Linked DNA regions of Homo sapiens: all the other regions are linked to region 1. Evidence: fine-mapped expression QTL. A gene starts in region 1. Each other region holds a variant in brackets. All regions are shown on one strand. Distances are from middle to middle.

Evidence for each region. PIP is the estimated chance that this variant, and not a neighbour inherited with it, causes the effect.
Region 2: its variant is fine-mapped to the expression of CHD5 in whole blood (TOPMed, PIP above 0.99).
Region 3: its variant is fine-mapped to the expression of CHD5 in whole blood (TOPMed, PIP above 0.99).

Annotation. Positions count from the first base shown.
Region 1 is chr1:6,176,053-6,183,333 of GRCh38, forward strand. It overlaps CHD5 (chromodomain helicase DNA binding protein 5), which reads right to left and starts at 4,269. Exons shown (of 42, transcript NM_015557.3): 1 at 3,893-4,269. The coding sequence starts at 3,971. RefSeq lists enhancers at 2,525-3,026, 3,027-3,526.
Region 2 is chr1:6,149,772-6,157,052 of GRCh38, forward strand. CHD5 (chromodomain helicase DNA binding protein 5) reads right to left here. Exons shown (of 42, transcript NM_015557.3): 4 at 5,828-5,946; 5 at 4,889-5,127; 6 at 2,641-2,765; 7 at 1,261-1,384. Among named protein-coding and RNA genes, the nearest start is that of CHD5, 27 kb to the right of the region's middle. The variant C/T (reference allele first, on the strand shown) is at 4,245.
Region 3 is chr1:6,141,073-6,148,353 of GRCh38, forward strand. CHD5 (chromodomain helicase DNA binding protein 5) reads right to left here. Exons shown (of 42, transcript NM_015557.3): 10 at 5,593-5,799; 11 at 5,140-5,351; 12 at 2,952-3,083; 13 at 2,751-2,859; 14 at 1,342-1,533; 15 at 1,056-1,256. Among named protein-coding and RNA genes, the nearest start is that of CHD5, 36 kb to the right of the region's middle. The variant T/C (reference allele first, on the strand shown) is at 3,701.

The DNA.
Region 1 (7,281 bases):
AGATGGATCCTATTACCTGATCAACTTGGAATGACAATGAATAACCCACTGGCCAAGCCACTGGGCAAAGTGTGCTGGTCATTTTGTCTCCCTCCTCCCAGAAAAGAATGTTAAATACAATCAGGCTCCCTGGGACCCCCCTACCAAACCATGCTTCCACAGGGGTAGGGGTGCAGGCTAAAATGTCATGGCCTTTTGGGAATCATGACTGTCACTCTCTCCTGGCCCCTGGACCTGAGGAAGCAAGCCTAAGATACTTACACATCTAGGGCCAATTGTCACTGGGGCCAGAGAGGTAACGGTGCCTAGTCCAGACATTGCCCATTCTGGGCTCACTAGCTTTGTCTGTGATTGAGGAAAAGCTGGGCCAATGAGGCAGGGAATTTGCCAGCCCAGCAGTGGCCCTAAGAGGGCTGAGAGCCACATTTTCTGAAGCCCTCTCCTGCTTCCTGCCACCCCTACCTTGGGCTTCACAGCCCTCCTCCCACCCAGGCTCCTACTCCCCTGAGCTTACTGGCTAAGGATGCAAGTATCAGAAGCATTTCCTTGGAGAAGGCAGGACAGCTGCCCTCCTTGGCTGGTGCTAACTACACCAGCCACAGTTTATTGAGCACCTATCATGTGCTGGGCACTGTGGCCTAATGTTCCACATGCACTGTCTCACTGTTCCTCATAATAACCCTCTATGAGGTAGCCAGTGCTATGTCCCCATACTACAAGTGGGCACACCGAGGAGAGGGCTGCCTGGCTTGTCCAAGACCACTCAGCTAATGCTCAGAGCTAGAAGCCAAGGCCTCATCCCACCAGCTCTTGACCCCTGGCTTCAACCAGCCACCCCAACTCCCAGGAGAATCTGGCAACTGCTGGTCCCCCAACCAGAAGAGGCACCCGCCCTGCCTTCCTCCTAGAAGCTGGCTCAGACACCTGCCTCAATGCCAGAGCTGGCCAGGGCAAACCTCCCCCTCCCCACCATCACTGCACGGGAAACAATAATTCACTGCTGAGAGTGAGCAACTCCCAGGGGGAGGTGGGAGATGAGCAGAGTCAAAGAAAAAAGATCGGACAAGTCATGAGTTTAATAGCCGTAGACTGAAAAATCATCATGACAGCTTCCAAAACACTAGCTCCTCCAGCCACAAACTTCCATCTTTTGGAACCAGCTGGTTCTGGTCTTTGGGGGTCACCGCCACTGAGCTTGGACTCAGGGCTGCATAGGGGCTATGAGGAAGAGCTCAGGGTGAGTGGGGGGCCAGCAGTGCGACTTGACAGGAGGCCTGGCTAGGGCTGTCTTCACAGCCAGAAGCTGGGGTGACCTAGAGAGTCCCAGCCCTCAGACACTGAAACCACAACCATCTCTCAGGAACGCATGGTTTCAGGTGCTGGGCATGGCAGGTTATCGAGAGTTACATTCGAAGGGGAACCCACAGATCCAGGAGGAAACTGATGACAACGTTTCGAGTATGTGAGGTGTGGTGACACAAGCATGTAGTCCCAGCTACTAGGGAGGTTGAGGCAGGAGGATCGCTTGAGCACAGGAGTTCAAATCCAGCTTGGGCAACACAGCAAGACCCCATCTCTTCCAAAGAAAGCATGACAATGTGTCTCAGAGTGACTGGAAGGCCCTTAGCAAGGGTGTCCCTCCCCATCATAACATTCGAGCTGGGACCTAAATGACCAGGAGGCAGCGGTGAGCAGAGGAAAGAGCAGGTCAGGCAGAGGTCACAGCCAGGGCCCCATGGCAGGATGGAGCGTGGAGCGTGGAGTGTTCCAGAAGCAGCAAGGAGGCCAGCGTGGCTGCTGTGAACAAAGGGGTACAGGAGTGGACCCGGGACAAGGGTTTCAGAGGCGACTGGAGCCATGCGGGTCGGGATCTGACTTGGGTTCACGAGGTGACCCCAGCTGCTGTGCAGTGGGTGGTCAGAAGGAGTGGGTAGAAGGCCCTGGAGGGGACCGGCAGGAGGGGACAGAGGCTTGGACCCAGAACATGGAGAGAAGCCAGGAGCCTGGAAAGGCTCTGGAGGTGGAGCAGCTGGCCTTGCTGATGGATGGGGACAGAATCCCCAGGCCAGAGGTGCCAGAGCAGGGCGTCTCTTCTGCAGGGCTCTGGGGGCACTCCTGGAGGCTCTGGGGCCAACCCACCGAGGGGGAGCACGGGTGGTGGGCAGGATGACCAGAGCCCCGCCTCTCTGGCCCAAGCAGTGAGTCGGGTGCCTACTAGACTGGGGGCACCTTCCCTGGCCTCTTCCCCTCCCCAACCTCTAAGTCCCCACATAGTCAGAGAGAGCCGGAGTGTAAGATGGGAAAGACAGCCAGGGGACTCCACCAGCGGGTCGGTGCAACCCCAGAAATGCCACTGATCCCACAAAAGGGCCACACCCCAAACACCATAACAAACAACTTGCTGAGAAAACCAGTAAACTGGCTTACTGGGGAGCCAGCCTCCTAGGTGGAAAATGGCCACTGATTTTTTTTTGTGCCTGTGCGGGGCCTCAGAGTTCCCCTCCGGAGAATGGGTCTAATTCCAAGGACCCAGGATATGACAGTCAACTATTGTCCAGGCAACTCCACCCCAAGAGAGGACTCCCCTATTCCCCGTCCCCAGCACGCTCGCTGCCAACTTGGCCTGTCTAACAGGCGAGGTGAGTGCCGGGCTCCTGTAGGAGCTCAGTGACAGCATTAAAGCCACCAACTAACCAAGCAAGCAAACAGAAGGGGGCAGGGGGTGTGGCCACCTGGTGGGAATACCCTCCCCAGAAGACGCTGGCTGCTTCCTCCAACAGGAGCTGGAGGTGTCCATTTGTGGAGTCTTCTCACCCCTGGAAGTCAGAAGGGGCCAGATGCACGTTCCTGGGCCCGGGAGGGCCTCCAGCCTCCCACAAGTCTCTCCGAAGTCCAGAGAGGCCACAGACTTGGCGCAGGGAAGCCGAGAAGTAAGAGTCTCCCAGAAAGGAGGGAGGGTGGCTGACAGGGTGGGGCCCTACCCAGCTGTGCCAGGAGGGAAAACGTCCCAAACAAATGGTGAGCAGTTAACTAAAGAACTGTCCCGCAAGGCAACCCCTGGCGCACAGCCCTGTGTATACTAAATTCTGAGAGAGATAAAAGGAGAGAGATGGTAGGGGCAGGGGCGGTGGCCCTGGGGCGTCAGGCCCGTAGCCAAGGCAGGGTGGGCTGGGAACGGCCACCACCCTGGGCGATGGTGAGGCTGGAGACAGCGGCGGGCGCTAGGTCGCGCCAGAAGGACGCCGGCGGCCCGGGTAAAGTGCTTGGGAGCGGCGGTCACAGCGCACAGAGGCCAGGAAAGAGGAGCAGGGGTCCGAGCCCGTGCGTCCCAGAGCGGAGTCCTCCTGGGCCGGGAGGGAAGCCGCCCCATCCTGGGCGCTCAACGCGTCCCCAAGCACCGCCGGTCCTCGCCCCTCTCTGGGCCCCACCCAGCCCGCCCCGCGGCCGACATGGGCCAGGGGCCGGGTCCCGCCTGCCCGCAGCGAGGCCAGAGGCGCACGGCGGCGGGACGCGAGCGCGGGGTGCGCCGCTCCGGGAGCTAGCGCGATTCCCGCCCCCTTCAAGGGCACGCGGGCTGACCCTGACAGCGCCGCGCCCCCCAGCGCAGGCCCCGGCCCGCGGTCCTCTGGCCCGCCTGGCCCGCGTCGCCGCCCGGGGGGCCCGGATCGCACCCCGCCCTTAGCCGCCCTCACGCCGGCCCGGGCGCTCACCCAGCCTTCGCCCTTGGCCGCGCGGCGCCAGCAGGGCGGGAGCGCAGCCCCGCAACCCGGGTGCCCCTCCTGCGAGGCGCCAGCCCGGCCGCGCCGCCCCCGCCGCCCGCGCTCCGCCCTGGGCCCGGCCCGTCTCGGCGCCCCCGCCGCTCTGGCCCCAGGCGCACCCGCGCCCCGCTCACCTGACATCTCGTCCTCATTCTCCATCTCCTCGGCGAACAGCCGCGGCAGCTCCTCCTCGGTGCCCACTGGGCCCCGCATGCCCGGCGCGGGGAGGAGGGGAGGTGGGCGCCCCCCCTCCCGCCGGGCGCGGTGCCAGCCTTAACCCGTGCGCTGCCGGACCGGCGCGCGCGGCGGGCGAGGCGGCCTCGGCGAGAAGATGGCGGCCGCCTGCCCCCCCACCCCCCCAAACCTCCACCCCCCCGTCTCGACCCCCCTTTCTCTCGGCCGCCTTAGCCTGCTCCCCGCAAAGCCCGGGCGCTCCTCCCACCGCGCCCCGCAGCCCGAGTCCCGCAGCCGGCCGAGGGTGGCGGCGGCAGCGCCAGAGGCACGGCGGCACGGCGGGGGGGCGGCACACATGCCCGGATTGTGACGTCCAGTCTGGTTGCTGTGGCAACCCCATCCCATCGTTCCGGCAGCGCGACTAGTTAACAGCAGAGAACAAGTTGGGGGACTAGTCCTGAGCCGCCGGGTGAGGGTGGGGACCGGGGGGCGCCCCGGCAGGGGGAGCCGTCGAGGCGTCCGCGCGCCCGCGGACCCGACGGCCGAGCGGGCAGTCGGGGCTTGGCGAGCCCGGGCGCAGGGGGAGGCGAGGAAACACCGCCCCCGCGCACCCCGGGCAGAGCCAGCCGCCGCCGCTCGCCTGCGAAGGCGCTGGGCCCCGAGCCCCCAAGGGCGCGGAGGCAGGGTCTTCAGGGCAGCGCGCGGCCCGCTCCCCCACTCGGTTCACAGGCGCCGGGACCCACCCCGCTCCCGGCTCCGGCCTCGGCACGTTCCTAACCCCCTCTCCAAAGAGGATTAGAAGAAAAATGTGTTCCACACTTGGGGAAAAGACGCTCTGGAGACTGTGGGTCTGATTTACAGCAGAAAAATCCGCGCAGGCGGGCTCCCCTCACCTGCTTCCCCGCTCCCACCGCCCACGTGCCCCCTTCCAAAAAGCCCCTCCAGGCTGGGTGCAGCTGAAACCCATGCAGACCCCTAGGGGTGGTGCGGATCTGCGATGTCTGTGCCCAAAACTCCCGCTCAGAAGCGACACCTGTCGCAGAGCAGGAAGGAGCCGCCGCCACCAGCCCTCGGTCGTTAAAGGTGAAGATGGAGGCCAAAGCCCTCGGGAGCAAGACTGGAATTTTAAATGAGCGCCTCCAGTCTCCGCGGCGGCAAGTCTTAAAGCTACCTTAAGAACGCAAAAGTTCCAGGGGCTGGCCGACCGCCAGCTCTCTAACCCCAGAAGGCCCGTGAAGGGAGGGCCCCCTCTCACTGCCTCGCAGGGGCACTGGGGGAACCCACCTGAGACACGCAGGATCGGCAGCAGTTTCCCTTCTTCCCGTTCAATTTTATTGCCAGCAAACCCCAAACAAAAGACCCTCTGCATTCATCCCTGGGCAAGGAGAGGTCGGTCCAGCCTTCTGGAACCAAAGACTGGGGTGTTGGGAACCCCTCCATCTCCCAGATCCGCTTTAACTACGCTGTAGATAGAGAAGCCGGGTCAGCCCAGTGCTGGCCGCCTGCAAGGGGAAAGGAACACTCTTCAGGGAAGCAGGCCAGGAAACCAAAGGGCCTCCCCTCCCAAGGCCGTGTTTCCCCACAGAGCAGCTAGCCAGGGGGAGCCCCAGATCACCGAGGCTTGAACCAAACCTGCCTCTTCCTCGTTCTTTCCAGACCAACTGCCTCCATGAATGGTGACCAACAAGGGAAGAAAGCCCTAAGCTGACACGCCCACCCCTCAGTTACCAGCCCCCCAACACCTCTCTAATCCCTTTCAAAGGTCCCCTGCCCTTCGGTAGAAAAACTCTGATTTACAATACTTCTCATCACCAGAAAGCCGCCCCCATCATTAACCCTGGCTCCAATTCCCAAGGCGAGGCTGAAAGTCAAGATATCGTTCAAGAAAGAACAGTTCTAACTGCTTAATCTGGCAACAAATTAGAGCCGAGATGCTCATCAGTCATAATCCTCTCCCCATCCTGTTCTTCCCGATGACTGCAACTAGGTAATATTATTTAATGTCCAAAAGCAAAATGAAACAAAAACTGGAATGCTAGAAACAAATGGATTTTTTTACTACAAATCTCCAGGTTTTTTGGGTTTTTTTTTTCAAGGGGGGGAGTTGAGATGGTGTCTGTCGTCAGGCTGGGGTGCAGTGGCGCAATCTCAGCTCACTGCAAATCTCCGCCTCCCGGGTTCAAGCGATTCCCCTGCCTCAGCCTCCCCAGTAGCAGCTGGGACTACAGGCGCGCACCACCACACCTGGCTAATTTTTTGTATTTTGGTAGAGACAGAGTTTCACCCTGTTGGCCAGGATGATCTCAATCTCCTGACCTCGTGATCCGCCTGCCTCGGCCTCCCAAAGTGCTGGGATTACAGGCGTGAGCCACCATGCCCGGCTCTCCAGTCATTTTTAAAGGTGAGCCCTTATTATTGTTAAACTATTAAATGGGTATTTTAATGACAACGGACCAAAAATGCATGACGTTAAAAGCAATCCCTGAAACTTGCAACTCTGCGTTGCAAGAACAAGCCTATCATTAAGGTTACTGTTTTAGGAGACAAGATTCTCATGTTTGCTGATCATAGAGCTCATAATTACACCTCAGTGACAATTCCAAAATCAAAATATTTTTTAATATACCGGTTACAAAAGCATCAAGGAAAAAACTTTTTTCGGCTGGGTGCAGTGGCTCACACTTGTAATCCCAGAACTTTGGGATGCCGAGGCGGGCAGTCATGGATCACCTGAGGTCAGGAGTTCGAGACCAGCCTGGCCAACATGGAGAAACCCCATCTCTACTAAAAATACAAAAATTAGCCGGGCATGGTGGCGGGCGCCTGTAATCCCAGCTGCTCGGGCGAGTGAGGCAGGAGATTCGCTTCAACCCAGGAGGCAGAGGTTGCAGTGAGCCAAGATTGCGCCACTGCACTCCAGCCTGGGTGACAGAGCGAGACTGTCTCAAAAATAGAAAAAAAAAAAACTTTTTCCAAGAACAGAGTGGAAAAAGCTCATCGTCTTCTGCACATACCATACTCAATTTCCATTCCAGGACTAAATGAACTCCTCATCCAGGAACCCCCAAGGCCTGCCTGAGGCCATTTCGTTCAACAATGCATATCCACGCTGTGGCCACCTGGCACCACCAGCTTCTCAAGGGCAATGAAGTGCTTGTACATACACCACCTCACAGCGAGTCACATAGATCAAAACTCTGCCCCACACCTCCTCCTCGGCAGGGGTGAAACGGCGTCACTCAGGACCGCAGTGTCCTCTGCAATGAAGGCTCAGTGCCCACCTGCTGCACCAAGACTTTCGTTGCACTTGAAGGCTTTTTCCGAAAGTGTGGACCCTGCACCACCTGAA
Region 2 (7,281 bases), 26 kb before region 1:
TGGATGGATGGATGGATGGACAAATGGATGGATGGATAGGTGGATGGAAGGATGGATGGATGATGAATGGACAAATGGACGGATGATGGATGGATGGATGGATGGACAAGTGGATGGATAGATGGATGTATAGATGGATGAATGGACAAAAGAATGGATGGATATATGGATAAACCAAATGGATGGATGAATGGATGGGCAAATGAATGGATGATGGATGGATGGACAAATGGATGGATGGATGGATGGATGGATGGATGGGCAAATGGATGAGTAATGGATGGACAAATGGAAGGATGGATGCATAGATGGACAAATGGATGGATAGATGGACAAAAGGATGGATAGATGAATGAACAAATGGATGGATGGGTGGACAAATGGATGATGGATGGACAAATGGATGATGGATGGACAGAGTGGTAGATGGATGGATGAACCAATGAATGGATAATGGATGGACAAATGAATGGATAACGGATGGACAATGGATGGATGGATGATGGATGGATGGACAAATGGATGATGGATGAATGGACAAGTGGATGGATGGATGGGATGGATGAATGGATGGACAGATGGATGGATGGACAAAAGGATGGATGGATGGATGGATGGATGGATGGATGGATGGATGGACAAGTGGATGGATGGATGATAGGATGGATGGATGGATGGATGGATGGATGGATGGACGGACGGACGGACGGACGGATGGACAAAAGGATGGATGAATGGATGGATGGATGGATGGTGGATGGATAGCTGACGGATGGATGGACAAATGGATTGATGATGGATGATGGATGAATGGCTGGATGGATGAAGGATGGATGGATAAAAAGAAGGGACTGAGGGAAGGAGGGAGAAGGAGGGATGGGAAGGAAGGTGAGGTAAAGATGGGTGTTAAGTGGGTGGGGGGTGACTGAAGGGAGGATGGCGATGAGATGAAGCACTTCCCTCTCCAGTCACCACACTGCTAATGCAAATGCCCTGGGGTAGCTCCCACCATAGGTTCCTTGTTCTTTCCTTACTGGGACAGGATGCCCCTCCCCAGACAGTAGAAACCAGGGCCGTGTGGGAAACACAGGGGCCCCACCTGGCTGAGACATGAGGATGCCCTCCCCCTGCTTCCCACGGGGAGGTTCCATGCCCCGCACATCCACCCGGCAGGCCGAGAACCGTCCAGATGGGGAGTCCTACTCGTGCCCCACTACATCCACCCAGCAGGCCAAGAACTCTCTGGAAGGGGAGTCATACTCCTCTTCTTCTTGCGCCTCCTCTTGCTCTTCTTGCCCAGGGCTGCAGAGCATTCGGAGCGCACGGAGGCACTGTGGATGCTGGCGCTGTCGAAGTCCGACTCCTCCCTCTCATCTTCTTCACTCTGCAGGGGAAGACAGGGTCCTGTGATCCCAGGGCTTCACCCAGAAGGCTTCGCTGGCCCAGGCAGTGTGGGGTGGGACAAAGCACGGAAGAGGCTCTGGAGACACAGTGCTCTCTGTGATTCATCTCAGCCCCCAACACAGCTGAAAACCTCACATTACAGCCTGCCTGTCCAGCCTGATGTCCCACCGCCTACCCAGAGCCCTGCTCTCCAGCCTCAGACACTTCCCACAATTTCCACCTCTGAACAGCTTCCCAGGCCTTGCCCTCCATCCTGCCAAACTCCTAAACATCCTTCAAGGGGCAGCCCTAGGGACACCTCCTCCAAGAAGTCTTCCCAGATCTCTCCTTTACTGGACCTACTGTGGCTGCGTGTGTGCCAGGTCTGGCCTGTCCTGTCTGACTGGTACATCACGGGCTCTCCACCAGCAAACATGCCTGCCAGGTGACGAGTGCTACAGGACCACGGCCCACTGTGGCTGAGCAGCGGGCCTGGTACACAGTATGTGCTCAACAAATATCTGCTAAGCTGAACTGGACCGTCAGCTCCAGGGCGGGCCACACCTTCTCTCCATGCTCCCCTCCAGACCTAACACTGGCTCCTGCCATGGTGCAGGGAAAGAGCTTCCAACTCCACCCACCGCAGGGCTGGGGTGAGGTGAGGGAGGCAGCTACCTGTGGGGGTGAGGAGGGCGAATGCCCCTCACACTCACAGAGAAAGGGGGGCCCCAAGGCTGAGTAAGACCTGGGCTTAGTGTCTGAGCCTGGGCCCAGAGCTGGCCCTGAGGACAGGAGGAGGTAACTGGGGCTCCAGCCAGCCTGATCCTACCCACATACCACTTCTCTAGGGTCCAGCCCCCACCCAACTACTCCCCCCGAGAGCAGACCTGGGTGCTGGGCGGCCAGGCCCCACCAGGACAGATCCCTCCACCTCCTGCCCAAATGGAGTTGCAGCTGTGGACAGCAGGAGCCAGGACTGAGCTCCCACTCAGGAGGGTGAGCCAGGGGAGCACTCCCTGCCCAGAGTCCAGGCTAGAAGGGCCCTTGGAAGGATTCAATCTAAACTCCTCATCACACAAATGGAGAAACTGAGGCCCAGCACACCTGCATGTAGGATGGAAGGAGAATAGTGGAGGGGTGCGACCTGCCCCAGCTAGTTTGTAATGAACTGAAGGCCCTCGCCTGGCCCTTGCGTGCTCATGTGCAGACACACATGCATGCAAATGCACACACACGCGCACACACGCACACACTCACCGAGGAGCCTTTCTTCCTCTTGTTGCTGATCCCCCCGAAGCGGAACTTGAGCCCGGCCGTCTTTTTCCCTTTGCCCTTTTTCTTCCCATCTTTGGAGCCTTTGATCTTCTTCCTCACTCCAGGCCCTGAAAAACAGCAGTGATGATAGCCAACCACTGCCACCACTGACGGCCTGCTTCCTGCCATCATCTCACTGAGCTCTCGGTTACCCAATAAGGAAAGGGTCATTTCTACCATCACCCCGTTTCAGATGAGATGCCTGAGGCTTGGAGAGGTAAACCCCTTGCTTAAAATCACACAGCAAGTGAGGCAAAAACCAGATGACGGCTCTGACTGGAGGCTGCCCTGACCGCCTTGCTGCCCCTTGTCCATGACCCACAGAAATGTGGCCCTTTTGGGAGGATCCCCTATACCGTCTCCAACCACTGAAAGGAGGCACTAGCCATCCCCCACAGCCAGCAGGGCCACTGAAGGCACAGCCGCCCACCTGTGGTCCATGCCTGAGCCCCCAAAGGATGTCTTGGAGCCAAAAGGCCTTTTCCCACCTGCCAGCCAGGCAATGCTGGTCCCACCCAAGACTGCCCCACCTCTGCCAGTCAACCCCAGCAAGGGCCAGCAGGGCTGAGGCTGTTTTTATGGAGCTGGCCACAGGGCAATTAGCTACCTGGGGAGTAATGACCCAAGAAGGAAGGGGGGCCTGGAGGCAGGGATGCACACCCCACAGAGGCAGCCTCTCCCCAGGCCGTCCTCTGGCCACACCACACACACGGACATGGAGCTAGGAGCCCAGCTGCACCCTCCATGGCGCCGCGGAAAATCTATTTCAATTTTCCAAGCTCTGAATAAGCAGCTCATGGAATCGATAGCTCAGCAGCTGGAGCGCGAGAGGAAATGAGAAAACAAGGCAGGCTGGGCAGACAGGGGCGGGCCAGGAGCCCCTCCCGAGATCCTGATGGCCCAGACAGATGGAGCAGGACAGGGAACAGACTCTGACCCTTGTCACTTCACCCACCAGGCTCCCTTCAGAGACTTGGCATGGTGATGCCAGACACAGAACCCCAGAAACTAAAGCTCCTTGGGGCTGAAAGAAGGGATCCCCGGAGCCCCCTCAGCCCCTTCCATCAAAACCCAAATCAGCCAGACGCGGTGGCTCACACCTGCAATCCCAGCACTTTGGGAGGCCGAGGTGGGCAGATCACCTGAGGTCAGGAGTTCTGAGACCAGCCTGGCCAACACGGTGAAACCCCGTCTCTACTAAAAATACAAAAAATTAGCCAGGTGTGGTGATGCACTCCTGTAATCCCAGCTACTCAGGAGGCTGAGGCAGGAGAATTGCTTGAACCCAGGAGGCGGAGGTTGCAGTGTGCAGAGATCGTGCCACTGCACTCCAGCCTGGGAGACAGAGTGAGAGTCTGTCAAAACAAAACAAAACAAAACAAAACAAATCAGGGCACCCAGGAAAGCTGAGCTGCAGGTGACTGACAGCCCTGGGGAGATCAACATCCCCAGCCTCCAAAAGGCCAGAAACCTGCACCCAGAAAGCTCCCTCCCCAGGGCCTTCAAGTCACAGGGGGCCTCTGCTGCCTGCATCCTCCCCACCCAGA[C/T]GCCCTGCCACTGAGGCAGAATTTGGATCTCGATCTCCTTCCAGGCCTGTCCCAGAACAGCCTCCCTGGGAAGCGAGACCTGGCCGTGCCCAGTCCCTCCAACTCCTGCCTGCTTCCCGGATCCTAAAGCTGGAGGGGCAGGGCCTCCATGCTCCACATTGGCCGAGGGCCTGGAGAACAACCCTGCACACAGTGGGTATGCAGACAAGAAGAAGAGACGGGCTCGACTGGGGCCTCCTCCTCCTCCCCAGAAACGGCACAGGCTCAAACCCAAGAGCCTGCCAACTCCCAGAAACCCAGGCTGGAGCGGCTCCACTCTGCGTACCTCTGGTCCCGCCCTCCCTCCAGGCCCACGTCGGGGGCACCTCCTGGCTGGCCAGGCTCAAACCTCCCAGACCTCTGCCCACATCATCGCCTCTGCTTCTCCACCAACCCCAAAAGGGAGTCAGGCACAAAAGAGGCGACGATGCTGCCTCACTGCTGAGAAAGGACCGGGCAATCCAAGGTCACACAGGCACAGAGCCCTCCATTAGGAGCACCCCAGCTGCCCCTCCCTGCCCGCGTCTGCCCCGTGGCTTCTCCTATAGGGTCTGAAAGGGACCTCTTCCCAGCGGGACTAGGTGCCCACCCAACCCCAGCCTTACCTTTGCCCTCCTTGGTCTTGGCCTTGCGGATAGGCACAGGCTGGGGCACCTGCGGGGGGCTGACGGCTAGCGGAGGGGAGATGGTGACCGTCTCTACAGCCGCAGCCACCGCCGCCGCCGCTGCTGCCGCGGAGCTGCCCTTGAAGGGGTTGTTGGCGCTGAACTCCCGCCACTTGGCACCCAGGACGGTCATCATTTTGGACATGGGGATCTTCGGGTTCTTCTTGGCAATGAGTGGCCTGTAGGGGGAGAGGCAGGAGGGTGAGGGCAAGGCCAGGTGAGATGAGAGGCCCACCCGACCCCCGGCAGGGCCCACCCCTCTGCCACATGTGCGATCTATGGCAGCAGCCCCAGGTTCCTGATTAGAGAGATTAGGCGGGAAACCCACTGACCACAGCCCACCCCCAAAACGCCCCAGCTTCCTGTCCACACCCACAGCCCACCCCCAAAACACCCAGCTTCCTGTCCACACCCACAGCCCACCCCCAAAACACCCAGCTTCCTGTCCACACCCACAGCCCACCCCCAAAACACCCCAGCTTCCTGTCCACACAGTTGGTGATTTTCTCATTGGGTTTTCAGGCCCTGCAAGACTTGTGGGGCCACAGGTGGGCTACAGTGGGCCTTGGGGTCTCCGTCCCACCTCTACCAGAGCTGAGAGGCCATGGTGGTGAAAGACCCCCCAGGAAAGACTGGAACCACCTTCCCCAAGGGGAAGAGACTCAAGGGCTGAGGGGCAGGGCCCACAAGGGAAGGCCTGGTGGTCTGTTAACATGAAGGGGTCCTGCCCCCTCCCTCCAGCTCCCCCAGGTTGCTCAGTCGGTCTGACAGAGCCCACCCCTACCCCAGGTGCCGGGGCTTCACTCCTCTGCCTCCCTCCCGACTTGGTACCACCAGAGGATGTGCGGGCCTGGAGAACAGCCCTAGTGCCCCGCCCACCTGAGGAACTGGCTGAAGGCCTTGTAGTTGGTCAGCGTGTGGTAATCCTCCTCCGAGAACAGGTAGTCCACGTCGTCCAGGCCCCACTCGGCCATGAGCTGCCCCGAGGACTTGGGCTCCTACAGAGACCCAGGCCAGAGGTAGAGTTGTTGAGGGGCCTTCTGACCTGCACCCCCATCCCCAGGGTCTCTGCCTAGGAGGCTTTGGCACAGGGGAAAGAGGAGGGGTTGTGTCTGCAATGTAACCAGACCATTCTCACCCACCCTAGGAAACATTCAAGCCCTGCAGCCCCGCAGCCCCGCAGCCCCCAATCTGTGCCACGTCTCAGATGCCAGCCCACGAAGTGCAGGCCAAGTGTTCGACGTCAGGGTTTGGGGAGAGGCCATGTGTGTGCCCTGAACTTCCAGAAAGGGAAATCAGCCAGGTGTGGGCAAGGAGACTGGATGCCTGAGACCAGGCCCCCATCCTGAGATAGGGCTGCCCGACCAGCCTCGGGACACCAGGGCAGGACAACAGAACTTGCCCTCTGTGGGGACTGCATTCTGGGGATTTGGACAGCAGGACAGCACAGTGGCCTGAAGACGGGAAGATGTCCCTGATGAGGCCGCAGGGCTCCAGGGCTGCCTAAGCCACTTTAGAAAGACATGAGGCCTCCAGGCCAGGGGTGGTGGCTCACGCCCGTAATCCCAACACTTTGGGAGGCCAAGGCAGACAGATCATTTGAGGTCAGGAGTTAGAGACCAGCCGGGCCAACATGCTGAAACCCTGTCTCTACTAAAATACAAAAATTAGTTGGGTGTGTTGGTGTGTGCCTGTAATCTCAGCTATTTGTGAGCCTGAGGCAGGAGAATCACTTGAACTCGGGAGACGGAGGTTGCAGTGAGCCGAGATGGCGCCACTGCACTCCAGCCTGGGTGACAGAGCAAGATTCTGTCTCAAAAAAAAAAAAAAAAAAAAAGACATGAGGCCTCCCCAGGATGCCAGGTATAGCTACGTCAGCCCTTGTGAAGGACAGGCCACTGCCAGTTTCCAGTGAAAGGAAAGTGCACTCTGCTGGGGCAGGGGCATGGGACAATGGGCCAGCTGGGGGCACAGCCCAGAGAGGATCCAACTACTGCTGAGGCCTGGGGTGGAGGGACATCCTGGGGGCACAGCCCTGAGAGGATCCAACTACTGCTGAGGCCTGGGGTGGGGGGACATCCCAGGGGCACAGTGAGTTCTCAAGAGAGCTAGCCCAGGGGTCAGGTGACCAGATGACCAGGCCCGGGCTGGCGGGGCTCAGAAAGGGAGGTGCCGGATGTGGGCATGGGCTGGTTCTGATCCTGGCTCTGCCACATACCGGTGGTAAGAAGTGGATAAGTTACTTAACTTTCCTGCCTCGGTTTCCCCATCTGTAAAATGGAGATAATGGCACACTGCCTTGCAGAACAGAATGACTTAGTGCAGGTGCTTGG
Region 3 (7,281 bases), 35 kb before region 1:
TAGGAGTTCGAGACCAGCCTGGGCAACATGGTAAAACCCTGTCTCTACCAAAATACAAAAAATTCGCTGGGCATTGCGGCATGTGCCTGTAATCCCGGCGACTCTGGAGGCTGAGGCATGGGAATTGCTTGAACCGGGAGGCAGAGGTTGCAGTGAGCTGAGATCGTGCCATACTGCACTCCAGCCTGGGCGACAGAGTGAGACTCCGTCTCAAAAAAATAATAATAATAATTAATAATAATAATAATAATAATTAGTTGGGGCCAGGCACAGTGGCTCACTCCTGCAATCCCAGCACTTTGGGAGGCTGAGAAGGGCAGATCACTTGAGGTCACAAGCTCAAGACCAGCCTGGCCAACATGGTGAAACCTGTCTCTACCAAAAAATACAAAATTAGCCGGCCATGATGGCGCACTCCTGGAGTCCCAGCTACTCACGAGGCTGAGGTGGGAGAACCACTTGAGCCCAGGACGGGGAGGTTGCAGTGAGTCGAGATCGCCCCACTGCACTCCAGCCTGGGCGATACAGTGTCTCAAAAAAATAAATAAATAAATAAATAAAATAAGTAGCTAAGATGAGATCATACTGGATTAGGGTAGGCCCTACATCCAGTATGAATGATGTGTTTATAGGATGAGAAACAGACACAAACGGGAAAACCCCATGTGCTAACAGAGGCAGAAACTGACGCGACAGCTGTAGGCCAGTGAACCCCTGCCGCCACCAGGAGGCTGGAAGGAGGAAGGAAGGGTTCTCCCCTAGGGCTTTCAGAGGCACGTGGCCCTGCCCTCACCTTGATTTCCAACCTCCAGCCTCCAGAACTGTGACCGAATACATTTCTGCTGTTTGAAGCCACTCCATTTGTGACACTTTGTTACAGGAGCCCCAGAAAACTGACATGGCTGTAACTCAGCCTCTAGGACAAGCCCCTCAGAGCCTGCCGGCCTCGGTAGCCCTCCCAGGCTGAGGGACCCCAAAGGAGTGCACGGCACCCGTGGTCCCTGAACTAGACCGGGGGCCTTCCTACCGTCCTTCCAAGGATAGCGAGCCCTCACCTTCATACGGAATACCTTCTTCCCACTCCGAATGGCGTTGTCCTCAAAGGAAAACTCGTTCTCCCGAATCACCGAGCGGCTCTCCTTGTCCCCCGTGTAGGTGACCACGTAGAAGTCGGGCGCCCACATCTCAAACTCGCGTTCCCAGTTGATGATGGTGGAGAGGGGCGCGCTAACCAGGTAGGGCCCTTTGGAGTGGCCCTGGAGAGAGAGGCCGATGCCGTGAGACCACCTGCCCTTGGCCAGGACCAGCCACCCCTCCTGGCCGCCTGCCCCGCCTGCCCACCTCCTTGTAGAGGGAGTAAAGGAACACGATGGTCTGCACCGTCTTGCCCAGACCCATCTCATCGGCCAGGATGGTGTCAGTGCCCTGGGCCCAAGAGAAGCGCAGCCAGTTGAGGCCCTCCAGCTGGTACGGGTGCAGTGTGCCGCCTGTGGAGTCGATGTACCATGGCTGCTTGTCGAACTTGACCGTGGGCTGCAGGGGAGGCAGCGGTTCAGACACGCCCCAGATCCTGGGCCACCAGAGTCCACACTACAGGCCTTTGCACATGCAATTCCTTCTGCCTGGAACACTCTTCCCACTCCTGTCTGTCTTCCTAACTCTTCTCCAGTTCTTGGATGGAACACCTCTTCCTCTAGGAAGCCCTCCCTGACTCCCAGCCTGGCTGAAGTGCTCCCACAGTGTCCTCCCATGGCAGCCCTGTACTTCTCCTATCAGGGAAATTTCCCGACTGTTGAATTCTCTGACTCTGAGCCCAGGTTGTCATCACCACCTTGGTCCTGTTCACTGCCTCCTCTTGAGTACCACACAGTGCCTGGGACATGTGGTCACTTACTCACCATTTTTTGGATGAACAACAAAACGAACATCCATCTGGGGCATTCGCAACGCCCCCAGTAACAGGCTCCTCCACTGGATCCAGACATTTACTTTTTTTTTTTTTGAGACAGAGTCTTTGTTGCCCAGGCTGGAGTGCAGTGGCACAATCATGGCTCACTGCAGCCTCAATTTCCTGGGCTCAAGGGATTCTCCTACCTCAGCCTCCCTAGTAGCTGGGACCACAGGCACACCACCGTGCCTGGCTAATTTTTTGTAGAGGTGGGATCTCACTACGTTGCCTCAAACTTCTGGGTTCAAGCGGTCCTCCCACCCCGGCCTCCCACAGTGCTGGGATTACAGGCATGAGCCACCATGCCCGGCCCATTTGTCTCTTGATCCTGCTCCAGGTCACTGGCCCCATGCAGTCCTCCCAATGGACCAGGCCCATCTGCCTTTCCCCAGCATCTGACAGGCGCCTGATAGTCCCAGGCCAGGCCCTCCGTGTTCTGTGGATACCCACCAAGGGCCCCTAGAAGACAGTGTGTCTTCTGAAACAGCTACCCAGGGCTCACTGGCCCTCGTCTCCTCAGGGCCAACCCAGGGCCAGGCGCTAGTGGACACCCAGGGAGCTCTGCTGAGTGAGTCATCCTGGGTCTCCTCCCAGGTGAGAGTGGTGTGTAAGTAGCATGTCAGCTGCAGTGTTATGAGGGGCCTTCCAGCTGTCCTAGCCTACATGGGCATGACACTGTCTGCATAAGCCATGAGGGCCCAAGGAAACATCCTTTTGAGAACACACACCCCCTGCACATTCAAGTCTGAGGTGGGCAGGCCCTGGCAACCCCACCCACTGCTGCCCCACCCTCCCCACTCACGTCCACAATGGGCGTGTCCGGCGGCTTCTCCTGCTTGTCGTCCCTCAGCTTCTTGCCCTTCTTGAGCAGCCTCTTGGGCAGCCTGGTGTCTTCTCCCAGCATCAGCTCCCTGGGAAACGGCATTGGAGGCAGGTGAGCAAGGCTCAGCCCAGGAGCAGGTCCCGGCAGCCTGTGCCTAGCAGCCGGATCCCTGCGACCCACCTGTGGCCCCAGTAGGCCTGCTTGAGGTTGTCGTAGTAGGGGATGTCGATGTCATCGATCTCCCAGGTGCACTGGTCGTAGGGCAGGTCTTTCCACTTGATCAGGTAGTGCACATCCCCCTTCTTGTCAAAGCTGCAACACGGTGAACAGATGTGGGTCGCTCAGAGCAGTGGCCACAGCACAGGTTTGATGAAGGGCACCTCCCAGGATGCAGAGCCATTCACACCCAGGGTCCCCTCGGATGCTGGGCCCAGCCAGGAGGAGGAGACGAGGGCAGAAGCTCCAGGGAGGTGCAGCGGCTTGCCTGGGGCCACACAGCGAATGAGAGGGGGATGTGGCAGAGCTGGAGAGGGACACGGAGGCCAGCTAACAGAGGAGCAATGAGCCAGCCTCCCACATCCTTTGCAGCCTCTGTGGCAGGGATGAATCCCATTTGTCACAGGGTCTGGATTTTCACAGGAGTTCTGGATTTCTAAGTTGGAAAGTTCTCCTTCCTGCCAATGGACTCAGTTTTCTAACTTAAAATACGCAAAGGACTTGTGCAGTGCCCACGTAGGGTGAGGAGTCATCTCTGCAAAGTAGATAAGGATGCAATTCCTGCGTGTGAGGTGGTCTCTTCTGGGGACACAAAGACCCAGTGACCAAGCCCAGCAGCACACAGCTTGATTCTGGCCACTGGGAGGGTCTTTAGGGCCTCCCACCCACCCAGGCTAAGGCAACCAGGCCAGAGGAGTGCTGGAGGGCCGGGC[T/C]GGGGCTTGACTACCCCACACAGCAGTGCCGAGGAGGCACACAGACCCGGTGAGCAGCGGCTGCTGCGGGCCTGGGAACATTAAGAGAAAAACCGATCCCGTTACCACGGCAACCGATGTTTGTTTGTTTTCCCATACATAATTGATTGTTTTGCAGATTGGGGGAACAAATCTGGGGGAGATTCACCTGCCCCACTTTGGGGCAGAGAGAAAAACTACCATGTATATTTTTAGCATGTAATTTAGTAAAGGTAGAAAACCATGGGCCAATTCATTGCCGGGCTCAGGTTCCCACAGGAACTGACCCTTGAAGGTCATTCTCAGGGAGGCCTGGGGAGGAAAAGGGGGGTGTCCCATAGTTGAAGGGGGGCAGTTTTTCAAATTCCGCGACCCTCGTACTGAAGACCACCCACAGCCAGCCTCTGGCAAGCTCCTGTCACCCGTGCAGCAGCCTGTTCCCTAAAAGGGCCTCAAAGCTCAGCAGATGGGAACCGGGATTGAAATCTGAACATCTGGCTCAGGCTTTTAACCTCTGCTCTACCCAACAGCTGCCTGAAGCCAGAAGCACTGAGTGTCAGAGGCCACCGATCCTAAGCCCCTCAAAAACAGAGGCCACAGGGTAGCTGGGATGGGGAGCACAAGCTCCAAGCTGCCACCAGGCAGCAGGTACTCTGGGCCCCACCCCAAGGCCCATCTGTCAGCCACCACCAGTTCTCAAGCACCTCAACTCAAGAATCAGCAGGCATTCCCACCACCCACCAAATCAAAACCAAAGCCCACGGGCCTCCTGCCTCTGGCTCTTTGTGCCAGCCTCCTGCAGCCTCTGATTGCTAAGGCATCCCAGGGAACTGCCAGACTGCTCCAGGAAGAGCTGCTGCTGGGGCACTGGGGGGTGCAACAGTAGCTAAGAAAGCAGGTCCTGCAGTCAGAAAGCATGGGGTTCAAATCCCAGCTCCACCCCGTGGCTGTGTGATTCTGGCGACTTAACCTTGCTGTGCCTATTCTCACATCAGTAAAACAGAGGTGAAAGTAAGACGCCTCCCTCCCAGGGTAGGCAGTGCTCAGTACAGCCAGCTGCTGTTACAAACGCGGGGGAAATGTGGACATACTCCCACACCTCGGGCGTCCCTCGTCCTCAGAACCCTCTTGCTGGTATCAAGCACTAACCCAGCATGAGGGTCCCGACGCCCCAGGGGTGTGAACACGTATGCATGAGTGTGCCGGCATGCATGGGACGGCCCCTCTAGCAGGTCAGGCAGATCTCCAGCACTGGGAACCCTGGGCCCTTCCTTGTGCCCCTGCTGTGCCCACATGTGGTTCTGCACGGCAGCCCCAAAGCAAGGGCCCTGGCACCCTGCGCTGCACCCATTTTACAGGGCAAAGAAGCTGACGTGGCCCGGCCCCAGCGATGGGCAGGGTGGCCGCCTGCAGGCACACACCTATGGTTCAGGATTCGGTGAATCATCATCCACTCTGGCTTGATGCCATAGCGGTAGAAGCGCTCCTCCATCTTGGCATAGAGGGGGTCCTTGTTCTTCCTCTTCTCGCTCTTGCCGTCTTCATCCCCAGAGCCGTAGTCAAAGGGGGGCGGCTCATCCATGTCGTTCTTTCTTTGGTAGTTGCGATACATCACCGTGTGGTACAGCTCCAGCTGCTCATGGAGCGGCACAAAGTCACAGAAGGGAGATGGGCCATGGTCCCCTGCATCTCCCTACCCAGCTCCTCTAGCCCCAGCCCAGGTCCCAGGCAGGACAATCCTCCCGCTCAGCACCACCCCAACTCCCAACAGCACCCCTCAGTCAGAGGCGCTTCAGCCCCTTCCCGCCAGCCCAGGAGGGTCCAGGGCTCACCAGGTCCCGGGCCTTAGCACAGCCACCCTCCCGGGCACTCACCTGTAGCTCCTTCACCCAGGAGCAATGCCAGTAGGACAGCCCTGCCCACTTGACAAAGAACTCTCTCTCAGGGATGCCCTCCAGGGGCTTAGGTGGAGGGAGGCTGGGCTCCACGTCAGGCCCCGGCAGCCCCACCATGAAGGGGGCAGGGGGCTCCGTCCACCTCCAGTGTAGAATCCGCTGGACTTTGCCCTTCAGTGGGGGGCACTGTGGACAGAGAAGGGTCCCCAAGGTGGGGCTCAGCTGCAGGGCCCCACCCTGAGGCTCCCATGACAGCAGGCTGCCATGCAGGCTCCCTCCCATCAGTGCCACTGCCCCCAAGTCAGAACAGTACCACGGTGACGCCATGACATCCACCCCGTCCCCAGGAGCCGCATGGGTCATGCACACAGGAGATGGGCAGTGGGGGTCTGTGAGACCACGTGGCCCTTTCACTCAATGGTGAACTTATCGGCACCCAGAATATCTGAGCCAGCGTAGGTGAGACTGCCATGTGCATAGGACAGAGGGGGAAACTGAGGCCCACTCGGCAAGGGACAGCAGAGCAGGGAGCAGAACATGAGATTCTGGACTTCCCCTACCTTAGGTCTTCCCATTGCCCCCTGAAAAGAGGTCACATCACTGTGTGATCCCCAAGCACTCAGGGAGCATGAGCCCTGTGCTGGAGCCCAGGGACACGGCAGCCCCATCCACCATCCCTCACCCGGGGCAGGGCTGCACCCAGGCACCGTGCGTCTAGGCTGGGACAATGAGGCCCCATCTCTGGCAGCCCACAGACACACTGCAGGGGCCCTGACAGATGCTAGGGTGACAGTGAGCTGCTGGCTGGCAAAGGCAAGAAATACAACAGCCACAAACCACACCACTCGGGCCCTGAGATGGGTGGGAGCAGCCTTGGCCCTCCAAGGAGGCGGTGCTGTCTGACTGGACAGGGTCGGGGGTGACTGATTCAGGGAGACAGCTCTGGTGGGGATAGCAGGTCCCAGCTTTGCTACTACCTGTCCTCGGAAACTCATCCAAGCCTCCAGAGCCTGCTTTCCCATCTGTAAAATGGCCCACCCCTTCCTCCACCTACCAGATCTGTGGTGCCACATCACACCTGAAGGCATTCTGGAGGTGCAAGGTACACCACACAGCCAGCCTTCCTTTGGCCTTGGTGACAGCAAAGGCCGAGAGGCAGAGGAGGAGGAGGAGGACATGGGAGGCAGGAAAGGCTCCTCCACTGGCTCTTGGGGGAGTGGAAGAGGGGACCCTTCCTACCCAGGCCATGGACCCTCCTACCCCCATCCCAGCCCCTCAGGGAAGAAGCTGAGAGGAACCCCACTCCTGCCCCCCTCCCATCCCCAGGGCCTTCCATCAATCCTAGGAAAGCACAGAAGGCTGCACCCCTCAAAAGGGTCCTCCCCTGGCCCCTACACAGACACAGACAAGTATGCGCACGGATGCACGCACACACATACACACGCACAATGCACACAGGACGGCCCAGGGCTAAAGGAGGCACAGCCCAGGACCTGAGGGGTGGAGGATCTGGCACCACAGGGGGCAGGACAGACAGCTCAGAGCAAGGGGCCTTCCGATGTCTACTGTGACTGGGGGGTGACGGATGGGGGGTGCCCCTCTTCCTGTAGAAACTGAGGCTCCCGCCCTAGGAGCCTCCTGCCCTAGAAGCCTCCTGCCCTCTCCCTA